Linked DNA regions of Homo sapiens: region 1 is linked to region 2. The links come from fine-mapping of genetic effects on gene expression. A gene starts in region 2. The other region holds a variant in brackets. All regions are shown on one strand. Distances are between the middles of the regions. Region 1 overlaps PDCD6IP (programmed cell death 6 interacting protein). Region 2 holds the start of PDCD6IP (programmed cell death 6 interacting protein).

Region 1 (5,000 bases), 28 kb after region 2:
TAATACTTACTGACTGCAGAAACATGCTGTTCATTTTAATACATTTGACTTTGAGTTTTCTCTGTGTTGTCTATTTATCTAACTCATGACACCTTTTTTTTTTTTTCTTTTTTGAGATGGAGTCTCGCTCTGTTGCCCAGGCAGGAGTACAATGGCGTGATCTTGGCTCACTGCAACCTCCGCCTCCTGGGTTCAAGTGATTCTCCTGCCTCAGCCTCCCGAGCAGCTGGGATTACAAGTGTGTGCCATCATGCCCAGCTAATTTTTGTATTTTTAGTAGAGACGGGGTTTCATCATGTTGGCCAGGCTGGTCTTGAACTCCTGACCTCAGGTAATCTGCCCACCTCAGCCTCCCAAAGTGCCGGGATTAACAGGCGTGAGCCACCGCACCCGGCCAACTCATGACACCTTTTAATCCCAGACTGATTTATTTCTTTTTCTTAGTATAATTTGTTTCATGAAAGCAAAGTTATTTTAGTATTAACAAAATATAATTGAGATGAAAAATCTGATGGGGAACATTTCACTAGTGAGCTCTGAAGGCCAGACAGAAATCACTGGCAATGGGTAGTAATGCTGTTCCTCAGAGGACTAGGTGTATGTACTACCTGGGGTGTCCCCTAACTACGGCATGTTTAATTATTTGAAAGATGAATTTGTTTGGGACCAAAGCAAGAGCATTGCAGTACTAAAAATATTTTAATGTTTATCCCCGCCTCTATTCTCATGTTAATTTTGAGGAAGTATATCTAAAAATAGTTTAATCAGATTGTTCCATTAGTTTACTTTGTTTTTCCTTGTAATTTACTTTTAATCTTTGTTAAATCTCTTGTTACGCTATAGAGTTTTAGAAAGATAACCTTATTGTCTGTAGGTCAGATGTTTTAGATTGGTTTTGCATAATATAAAAATTTAAATATATTAACTGTTCACTGAGTTAACATTTGAAATGACTTTTATATGTAACAGTAGGAAATTAAGTCTTGCTGAGTTCCTATAAAGAAATTCTTTTTCCCCCCTTTAGTTTGCTAGTGGTGCCTTTTTACATATTAAAGAGACGGTTTTATCTGCCTTAAGTCGAGAGCCGACCGTGGACATATCTCCAGATACTGTTGGGACCCTCAGTCTTATTATGCTGGCACAGGCTCAAGAAGTATTTTTTTTAAAAGCCACAAGAGGTAACTCCAATTTATCTTTTTGTTGCATGTGAAAAAAAGTGATAAGGCTTTTAAATTAAGAAAGTGATTAGAATATAATATGTTCAATGTCGAGCTGTCCTTCTTGAACTTGATACATGAATTATGGAAAATTTTCAGCTATCCTTTTCTGAATTTGTGGCACAAATTTACATTTAAGAATGTAGGCTGTGTTTGAAGTCATGAAATAGATCTTTAGTAATTGTCTTTAAACACTCCATTCTGGAATAGTATTTATGTATGTTTTTAACATGTCAGACATTTATTCGCAAATATTTATTGGATACTTACTCTGTGCCAGTCACTGTTCTAGTTTCTAGATAAACGGAGTTAGAAAACAACTTAGGTTTTGGCGACGGGAGAGATGATAAGCAAGAATTAAGTAGACAGGATAATTTCATAAATAATTGCTATAAGATTTCAGAAATAATTGCTATAAAAAATAAGAGAATTATATGATAGTGGCTGGTGGTATGGTTATGGGATAGGGATATAGGGGAAGCTGGGCTAATTTTAGATTCATTAGTCAAGAAGGCTTTCTTTCAGGAGGTCCTCTTTAAAGTAGACCTAAATGACAAGAAGGAGTCATCCAGGCACAGTCCCTAGCCCTGGGAATGAGGGAATAAGAATAATTCTTATAAGGCATATAAGTTAGCATGAGAGATTGAAAATGGGCTGAATATGTAATATGGGCTGAAACTGAAAATAAGAGATAAGTCATCATGTGGAAGAAATAGGAATTGGAATACTTTTTTCTTTTAAAATAACAGCTTATATTGAGATAGAATTTATATACACTCAAGTTCACCCTTTCTAAGTATACAACATAAGATTTTTAGTATATTCATAGAGTTTTGATTACCACTATCTTATTTTAGAACATTACCATCATCCCAGAAAGAAGCCATGTACCCATTAGCAGTCACTCCTCACTCCCCTTTCCCCCACTGCTGGCAACCACTAATCTATTTTGTCTGTTCTAAATTTTGTGCAGAAAATGTGATTTCATCAAGAAAGATGTTTTCAGATGCGTGTACAAACTTGTGACCTCAGTGTTTATACTGAGACATGTCAGATTAGCTCATATTTATTTTAATTATAATGGTCATATTGTATTCCAGATAAAATGAAAGATGCCATCATAGCTAAATTGGCTAATCAGGCTGCAGATTATTTTGGTGATGCTTTCAAACAGTGTCAATACAAAGATACTCTCCCCAAGGTCAGTTATTGTTTTTATAAACACTTGCTTACTT[T/G]GCATGTGAAATATTTAGACTTTTTTGTGTATAAGAAGCAAGTTGAAACTTATAAAGAAATTTGAAGTTTTAATAGAGTTATCTGAAGTATATAGTAGAAATAGTTTTTTTTTTTTTTTAATTTAAGATGCATGAACAATTCTTTTATGTTTAGGGGATGCCTTTGTCTTTACCTTTTACTAAACTTGTTTTTCCAAGCTAGAACTCTTTCTGGAAAATGTTGACCATCTGTTTTCAATACTTTTATCAAATCAAGGCATTGTGTAGTTCTGAATCATTGGTGATTTGGTACAAGCATGTATACTTGAGCATGTTGATGATTCACACTTTTAATTATTGTCCTGTTTTCTTAAAGATGAGCCTTAAAGCGCAAAAACAGACATAAAGAAAAAAGGAAAAGAAAACTTAACAAATTCATCTGATACTTTGATTAGAATTCAGTTTTGCCAACAGGGATAAAAAATTGGGCTGCTAATGGACAGCTAAGGAAAGCAACCATCTTAAACCACATATCACAGGAAGTATAATGTTTTAATGTAAACCTTTCTGAAGTGACAATTGTAAAGACTATTCAGTGATGATCATTTGTTAATGACAAAGCAAATCACTAGTAAATTTGGAATGATTAATAAAGAAAACTTAAAGATTGAGTGAAATATATGTTTCAACTACTTCCTTCAGAAATGTTCAAGGAATTAGTTTCATCATATGGTATCTGTTACATGATTTTTTTTGGTAGGGGAATTTATTGATTTGTAAGTCATATTCAGGAATCTTTGTACATTAAAAAATTGCAGACAACTTGGGGGTGAAGTAAAAATGCACATAAGTGCATTAACAGTACTTATTACTCAGAAAATGATCAATAAGGAATTAATGTGACGATTCCTGGGGATTTAAGATACACCAAGAGCCTAGTAGAAATTTGCCCAGGATTCTTGGGTATTAACAGCCTTCCTCTTAAAAAGAGACTTGGGATCTCCTCTCATGTTTTTTTCATCTGAAAGACCTCATGTTCAGCTGCACAGTGTTCCGTTACATCCTGTTGGGCCATTAGTTCAGTCCTGTCATGGAGAGAAGAAAGTCACCTACAAAGACTTGGAAGCTACCTCTGCAGCATTCCTGGTATTCCTTGAAAATCTCCTGTTTCAGAACCAAGTTGCTCCAGCCTTACCTTGAGAACTGGCATGAGTGTAGTTTGAAATTTAGATGTCTTTTATTTTTTCCTTTTTACTAATAAAGCTCATAAGGTATTTTCATATTCTAGTTATAAAACTGAAAAGTCTGCAAGTAGTGATCCAGGAAGGTAGGAAATTATTCCCTGGGAGACAGGAAAGCACACAAGGTAGTAATTCAGTTTTTGATTCTCTTACATTTTTTGTTTAGATAGTGATTGTCTAGCCTAATTCCTTGGATTTTTTTAATATCATATACTTCCTAAAAGCAGTGAGGTTACAGGTTAGATTTTGACGTTTTGGAAGAGCCACCACTAGTATAATTGCTTTCCTGCTTTATGTCTTTGGATCTTTTGAAATTAATTTTGACTGGAATTATTTTCAAAACAAATAGGCAAAATAACACTTTATCATTATCATTGGTCATATACTTAGTGCATTTGTCTATGATATGTTTTTGAGTATATGACACTGAAATATTAGTGTATCTATGATACTAAATCATTTTTATATGGCTAAAATCATCTTCAGTAAGAACTCTCTTAGGATATGAATTTAAGTGAAAATTTACTGTCTTTTTTTTAAAACATGATGAAACAGTAATCTATAGAGCAATTTCATTAGTATATGTGAGTAATGATGGTTTAGTTAACTCTACAGGCTGGGTAAGGGCTCATAAGAAAGCTTCTAAAGCTCTGTGCTTTGTGTTCCTCTGTGAATGTCCATTCTACTTCTCTTTCTAATAATGCATGCTTTTCTTTTTGTAAACAAAATGTTGACTTCATGGATCAATTAAAGAGAATTGTAAAAACCTAAATTGGCTTCAGTTAACAGTTAAAAAAAACCCCTTCAATTGGAAGAAAAAAAATTTAATTCATAGATTTCAATCCACACAAAATCATGTCGTCTTCTCTGTTTACACCTAATGACTAACCTTAATCTCTAAACCATTAATGGGGTGATTCTAATTTCTGTCTTCTTTTCCTTTTTCTTCCTGCATCCCATGTTGTCTGTGGTGGTTTGTGTGGTTGGACTCTCCCCTGGTCAGTATTTTTATTTCCAGGAGGTGTTCCCTGTCTTGGCTGCAAAGCACTGTATCATGCAGGCCAATGCTGAGTACCATCAGTCTATCCTGGCAAAACAGCAGAAGAAATTTGGAGAAGAAATTGCAAGGTTACAGGTGAGTCTCTTGGTAATAAATATTTAAGTAACTAACTTGGATCTCTCTTTTTTTTCCTAGTGAGATTTCCAAGTTTGCCCATAAAAACCTTTCCCGTTCATCACCCCTATCAGCAGGGACAAGTGATTGTTTTTATCTTTAGACTTTACTGCATGTTTTTTTGAGGTCTCATATTTTATCTAAAAAATAGATG
Region 2 (5,459 bases):
TAACAAGGGAGGGAATCTACTTTAGATAGTATGATGATGAGGAGAGGAGACCTTTCAACTGAGATATGAAGAAAGGGAGAAAACATTCTAGGTCACATGAGGCAAGAAAGATCTTGGTGTGTTTGAGAAACTAAAAAGACCATTGTGACTCAGTGGTAACAAATGAGGAACAAGAGGCAAAATATGAAGTTGCAGAGAAAGATCATCATGTTGTGGCAGGGAGTTTGGTTTTCATTCCAAGCCATCAGATAGTATCACCTTAATCTTCCTTTGGTCAATGCCACAAAACTAACCACATCTATGTTAACTTTCTTTTCTCCGCCATCTGCCTCAACAAATGTCATGTCCCTCATCTTTCTGATGGCTAATCACTCCCTTTGTATCCTCCCTCCTCTGGTTACCCTTTCTCCTCTTTTCATATACTTTGCTTCTTCGTTATCTTCCCAATGGGTCAGTCCTGTCAACCAACCTACAAGACACCACCCATCCCCCACCCTCTTCCATGGGTTATCAACTGGTAATGATTCTACTAACCACTCAGATGTTCAGGCCCCAAAACCAGGACCTATCTTGACCACTCTCTTTTCTTTACTTTCCTATGCAGTTCATTGGTAAATTCTTCAGTTTTAAACTCAAAGATATTATCAGTTTGGTTCACTCTTGCTAATGTTAGCTTTCCTGATTTCGTCTTGATTTCTGAAATGGTCTCATGATTTGCCTCCTTGCCTCCATTCTTTCCTTCCTCTAATTTTTTCTTTATGCATCAGCCAAGGGTGGCTACTTATTTTAACATAGAATAGCTTAATTAAAATAAACAAAAATTTTTATAAATTGTGGTAAAATAGGCCGGGTGCAGTGGCTCACGCCTGTAATCCCAGCACTTTGGGAGGCTAAAGCGGGTGGATCACTTGAGGCCAGGAGTTCGAGACCAGCCGGGCCAACATCGCGAAATCCAGTCTCTATTAAAAATACAAAAATTAGCCAGGCATGTGGTGTGCACCTGTAGTCCCAGCTACTCAGAAGGCTGAGGCAGGAGAATAGCTTGAACCTGGGAGGTGGAGGTTGCAGTGGGCTGAGATTGTGCCACTGCACTCCAGCCTGGGTGACAGAGTGAGACTCTTTCTAAAAAAAAAAAAATTGTGGTAAAATAAACTTTTACTATAATGAAAGTAGTCTATGTGCTGCAAAAGTTACAATGAAAAAGATAGGCAAACACAAAGAAAAAAATACACATTTCCACTTCCAAAGATTACCAATACTAACACCTTAGGGTATAAGCCCACTATTTTTTTAGTTGTACATAAATACATATATGTGCATTTTTAAACCAAAATGAGATGCTGTAACATACTATTTCGTGACTTGCTCTTTTCAGTTAATGATCTTTTCCATGGCAATACAGTTCTATTTTATCCAATACTCAGTCCATCTACATTCATATTTCTTTAATGGTCCTGAAAATGCATTTTATAGACAGTCTGTTCAAACCAGGATCCAATTCAAACTGTTATGTCCCTTAAATTTCTTTTCATAAAGCAGTTGCTTTTATCATGACAAATTGTTGAAGAGATGGGCCAGTTATCCTGCAGAATGTTTCACCTTCTGGATCTGTCTAGTTACTTCCTCTGGCATCATTTAGTTTGTTCATCTATCTGTTGTATTTTTTATAAACTGTGTTAGATGCAAAGGCTTGACAGATTCAAGTTAAATATTTTTGCCTGGAATATACCATGATGATACTGTATACTACATCCCATCAAAAGACAAACTATCCGATTGAGCTACAACGTGGCCTTTAAAAAATGTAAATTATAAGTGTATATAGCTTCCTCTGCATTTATTATACAATACTAAACAAATTCTTCAACTTGGACAACAAGTTTCTGAATGATTTGATGCCTGCTTACTCATCCAACTTTATTCCATCCCATTCTATTTGTTTTTAAAGGTCTTGTCACATGTTTCGTTTCTAGTCCTGAAACATGGTTAAGTGCTTGCCTCCTAGGGCCTCTGCCGCAGGCTTTTGGTTTGGAGGCTCTCCTTTGCCACTCCACCCCTCTCCACTCTTCTCCTCTTCTGATATCAAGCATCTTCTCAAATTACAGGTGTCGTTTTTAATTTATTTAAAATTTTGTTCTTTCTACAAAACAGCAACCAGAGACACAGGTTCATTTTCAGTTAACCTACTCGGAGAAAACCTACTTTATCTTATTTAAATTAGGGTCCTCCAAGCGATCTTAACATCTCCTAAGTCCCAAGCACCCTGTTTTTTTCCTGATACTTTTTCCGTTTACCTTAAGGTCTGTGTCAACCTGACAGTAAGCTGCACGATGGCAGGGGTCTTGCCTACTAGGTTCCCTGTGCACAGCAGCCCGTCAACAGTAGTTGAATAAACATCATAGGTCACAATAACCCTGGGACTGCCTCTTGGGGAGGTAGCCGCAAACTCTCGCAGGTGGCAGTGACACCAGTACTTCTCCGGGGGGTTGTTCGAGTGGAGGAATACTCTTACGTGAAAGTGCTCAGTACACCACTGCGGCAGGAAGGAGGAAGGGAAGAATTCCAGATGGGGAGAAAGTAATATTTTGCAGCACAGTACAGGGTAAACTGGGTCCAGGTGGGCGTAGCCGCCGCGACACCTTCACGTGACCGCGGACAGCTTAAGGACCCCGCATCCAGTGCGCCTGCGCTGGAGCTCCCGGAAGTTGCCGGACCCGGAACGCAGGCGGAGCGCAAGTCTGTCAGCCAGTCAGTCCGCCAGTCCGCCAGCCCAGTACCTCTCTCTCCTCGGCCCTCGTAAGCTGTCCGCGGTCTGTTTGGCCCGAACGGCGGCGGAGGCGCTGATCATGGCGACATTCATCTCGGTGCAGCTGAAAAAGACCTCAGAGGTGGACCTGGCCAAGCCGCTGGTGAAGTTCATCCAGCAGACTTACCCAAGCGGCGGGGAAGAGCAGGCCCAGTACTGCCGCGCGGCGGAGGAGCTCAGCAAGCTGCGCCGCGCCGCAGTCGGTCGTCCGCTGGACAAGCACGAGGGCGCGCTCGAGACGCTCCTGAGGTGGGCGCGGGGCTGGGAGTGGGTAGGTTGTCTGCCAGCCGTCGCTCGCCGCTCCTCTTCCCGTCTCCCCCCTTCCTTCAATCCTGTAACCTGGGCGGAGCCGCCCCGTCCCGGCCTGACCAGGCGCGTAGGTGTGGTCTGCATTCTTTGCTGGTGAGCAGGACCCGCCCTGCAGGCCCGCTGTGACTGCCCGCTTGTCCTGCCTGCACGTCTGCTCTAGCCCTTGGTCGGCGAGGGCTCCGTGGATCAGATACCTGGGAGCAGCAGTCTGCCCTGTACTGATCTCTTTTGCCACATTTACTTAGAACTAGTCTTCACTTTTTTGGGTCTCTAACTGAAGCTTCCCCTTTCGCCCCATTTTTCCATCACTGTCTTTCTTGGGCCACATTTTGATTTCATAATAGTAGTTGCTTGAAGGCAGTGGGGGAAGTGGGGGAATTGGGACACTGGACCAAATGTCTGATCAGCTCATCACATTGTCCACATGAAATGGACCGTCTTCCTCAGTTCAAAATAATCAAATGATAGATGGAGAATTCTGAAAGTTAGGAGCTACAACTATTTGAAATAAAACTCTAGTTACATAGTTGAACCGTTCAAGGTAGGTTGTTTAAAAGCAGTTTGTTCACAAACAGATATATACACAGTAGAGTAAATTTGTTATTTTAGCAAACGCTTATTTAGCTCATGCTGATTTAATGAGGGTTCCTTTCATGATACTTAATAGTTATAAGAACATTTTTTACGATTTTATAGTTAAACATTTCTTTTGCATACCTTGTTAATCTCGTTTTCTCCGTATAGTATATTCTACTTGTTTCACAGGAGAATCACAATTGTATTCCAATCCAAGTAGCAGAAACCCAGGCTAAACTAGCTTGAGCTAAGAAAAGACTTATTCTGCCGGGCGCGGTGGCTCACGCCTGTAATCCCAGCACTTTGGGAGGCCGAGGCGGGCGGATCACGAGGTCAGGAGATCGACACCATCCTGGCTAGCACGGTGAAACCCCATCTCTACTAAAAATACAACAAATTAGCCGGGCGTGGTGGCGGGTGCCTGTAGTCCCAGCTACTCGGGAGGCTGAGGCAGGAGAATGGTGTGAACCTGGGAGACGGAGCTTGCAGTGAGCCGAGATCGCGCCACTGCACTCCAGCCTGGGCGACAGAGTGAGACTCCATCTCAAAAAAAAAAAAAAAAAAAAAAAAAAGTAAGACTTATTCTGCTAACTGAAAAGTCTAGGGATATTCCTTCCTTAGCTTTAGGTATCACTGGAGATCGTCTTGCCTCCGTGATGCTTCCCTCGAAAGCTTTGTTCATGTATTGAGAGGGATGGCTGTAGTGTAATAACAATCGTCCGCAACACTCAGTATCTTACAGAAGGGAGTGCTTTTCTCCTTAGCTCTGGTGGAAGTCCATGGGAGGCTCCTGGGTTTGTTTGCACCCATTTATGATGGTGGGAAATGGGCTAAGTTAATTGCCCTTATCTGAGTCATCCAGCCGGTTTAATTTCTCCTTACCCCATGGATCAAAGCAAGATGAGTCCGGACTGGGGAAGGGTTGGTTCTCCGAAGGAAGGGGTACTGAATAGATTGCTCAGAGGAATTAAGACCCCTTGGTGTCAAATTTTAGAGCTACAACTGTTGGGCTGCAAGGATCATTAGTCTAATAGCATAAGCATTTTTTTTAAAGTTAACCTAGAAATACTTAGCCATTCTTTAGAATTAACATAATTAAACAATTTCAAGGTAATTTTTATGTAGGCATGAATAGCATTCAGTGAGGATTTTCCATTAGTAATATTAAGAAAACATAGTTGTGGTATAATGAGCCCTGTGATAAAAATCTTGTTGAATATATCAAATTTGGTTCCAGCCCTCAGATTTGGGGTCTTCAGAAGCACTTGGTGCATGGGTTTTAAGCTAACAGACATGGGAGGTTGGTGGATAATGGTTTGGATACGGTTCTCCTGTCAACTTTAAAACTTAATTCATTTGTTCCTTCCTTTATTCTTTTTACCAGACTTAAATGTGTGAACTGTTCCTAGGTAGTGGACCTGTTGTAGATATAGTCTCTTTGAAACTAACCATGTTTCTTTAGTCACCTCTGTATAATCCCCTCCTGCCACATTAATTCAACAAATATTAAGTATTTTCACTTTTTGGGCTTCTAGAGGGGTTAGGGTAAGCTTGGAGATATTACTAAAGTTTATAATGGAGGTAGGTACAAAAGTTTTGTAGGTATATACGCTGTAAAATTAGATGTGAATCAGTTGTGTGATGTTCATTCAAATCCGGCAGAATATCTTATTTTTAATAATTATGTTTGGATAATTGTGTAAACTTAACATTAATTTTTTAACTTAATGAACTTTTTAAACTAATGAACTTTGAAAAACAGAGTTTA

What was found.
Region 1: its variant is fine-mapped to the expression of PDCD6IP in whole blood (INTERVAL, PIP 0.95).

What each region holds. Positions count from the first base shown.
Region 1 is chr3:33,824,163-33,829,162 of GRCh38, forward strand. PDCD6IP (programmed cell death 6 interacting protein) reads left to right here. Exons shown (of 18, transcript NM_013374.6): 5 at 1,025-1,178; 6 at 2,318-2,418; 7 at 4,691-4,807. Among named protein-coding and RNA genes, the nearest start is that of PDCD6IP, 28 kb to the left of the region's middle. The variant T/G (reference allele first, on the strand shown) is at 2,453.
Region 2 is chr3:33,795,883-33,801,341 of GRCh38, forward strand. It overlaps PDCD6IP (programmed cell death 6 interacting protein), which reads left to right and starts at 2,748. Exons shown (of 18, transcript NM_013374.6): 1 at 2,748-3,055. The coding sequence starts at 2,847. PDCD6IP-DT (PDCD6IP divergent transcript) reads right to left here and starts at 2,637. Exons shown (of 2, transcript NR_183731.1): 1 at 2,513-2,637; 2 at 1-2,140. RefSeq lists enhancers at 2,615-2,964, 2,911-3,444.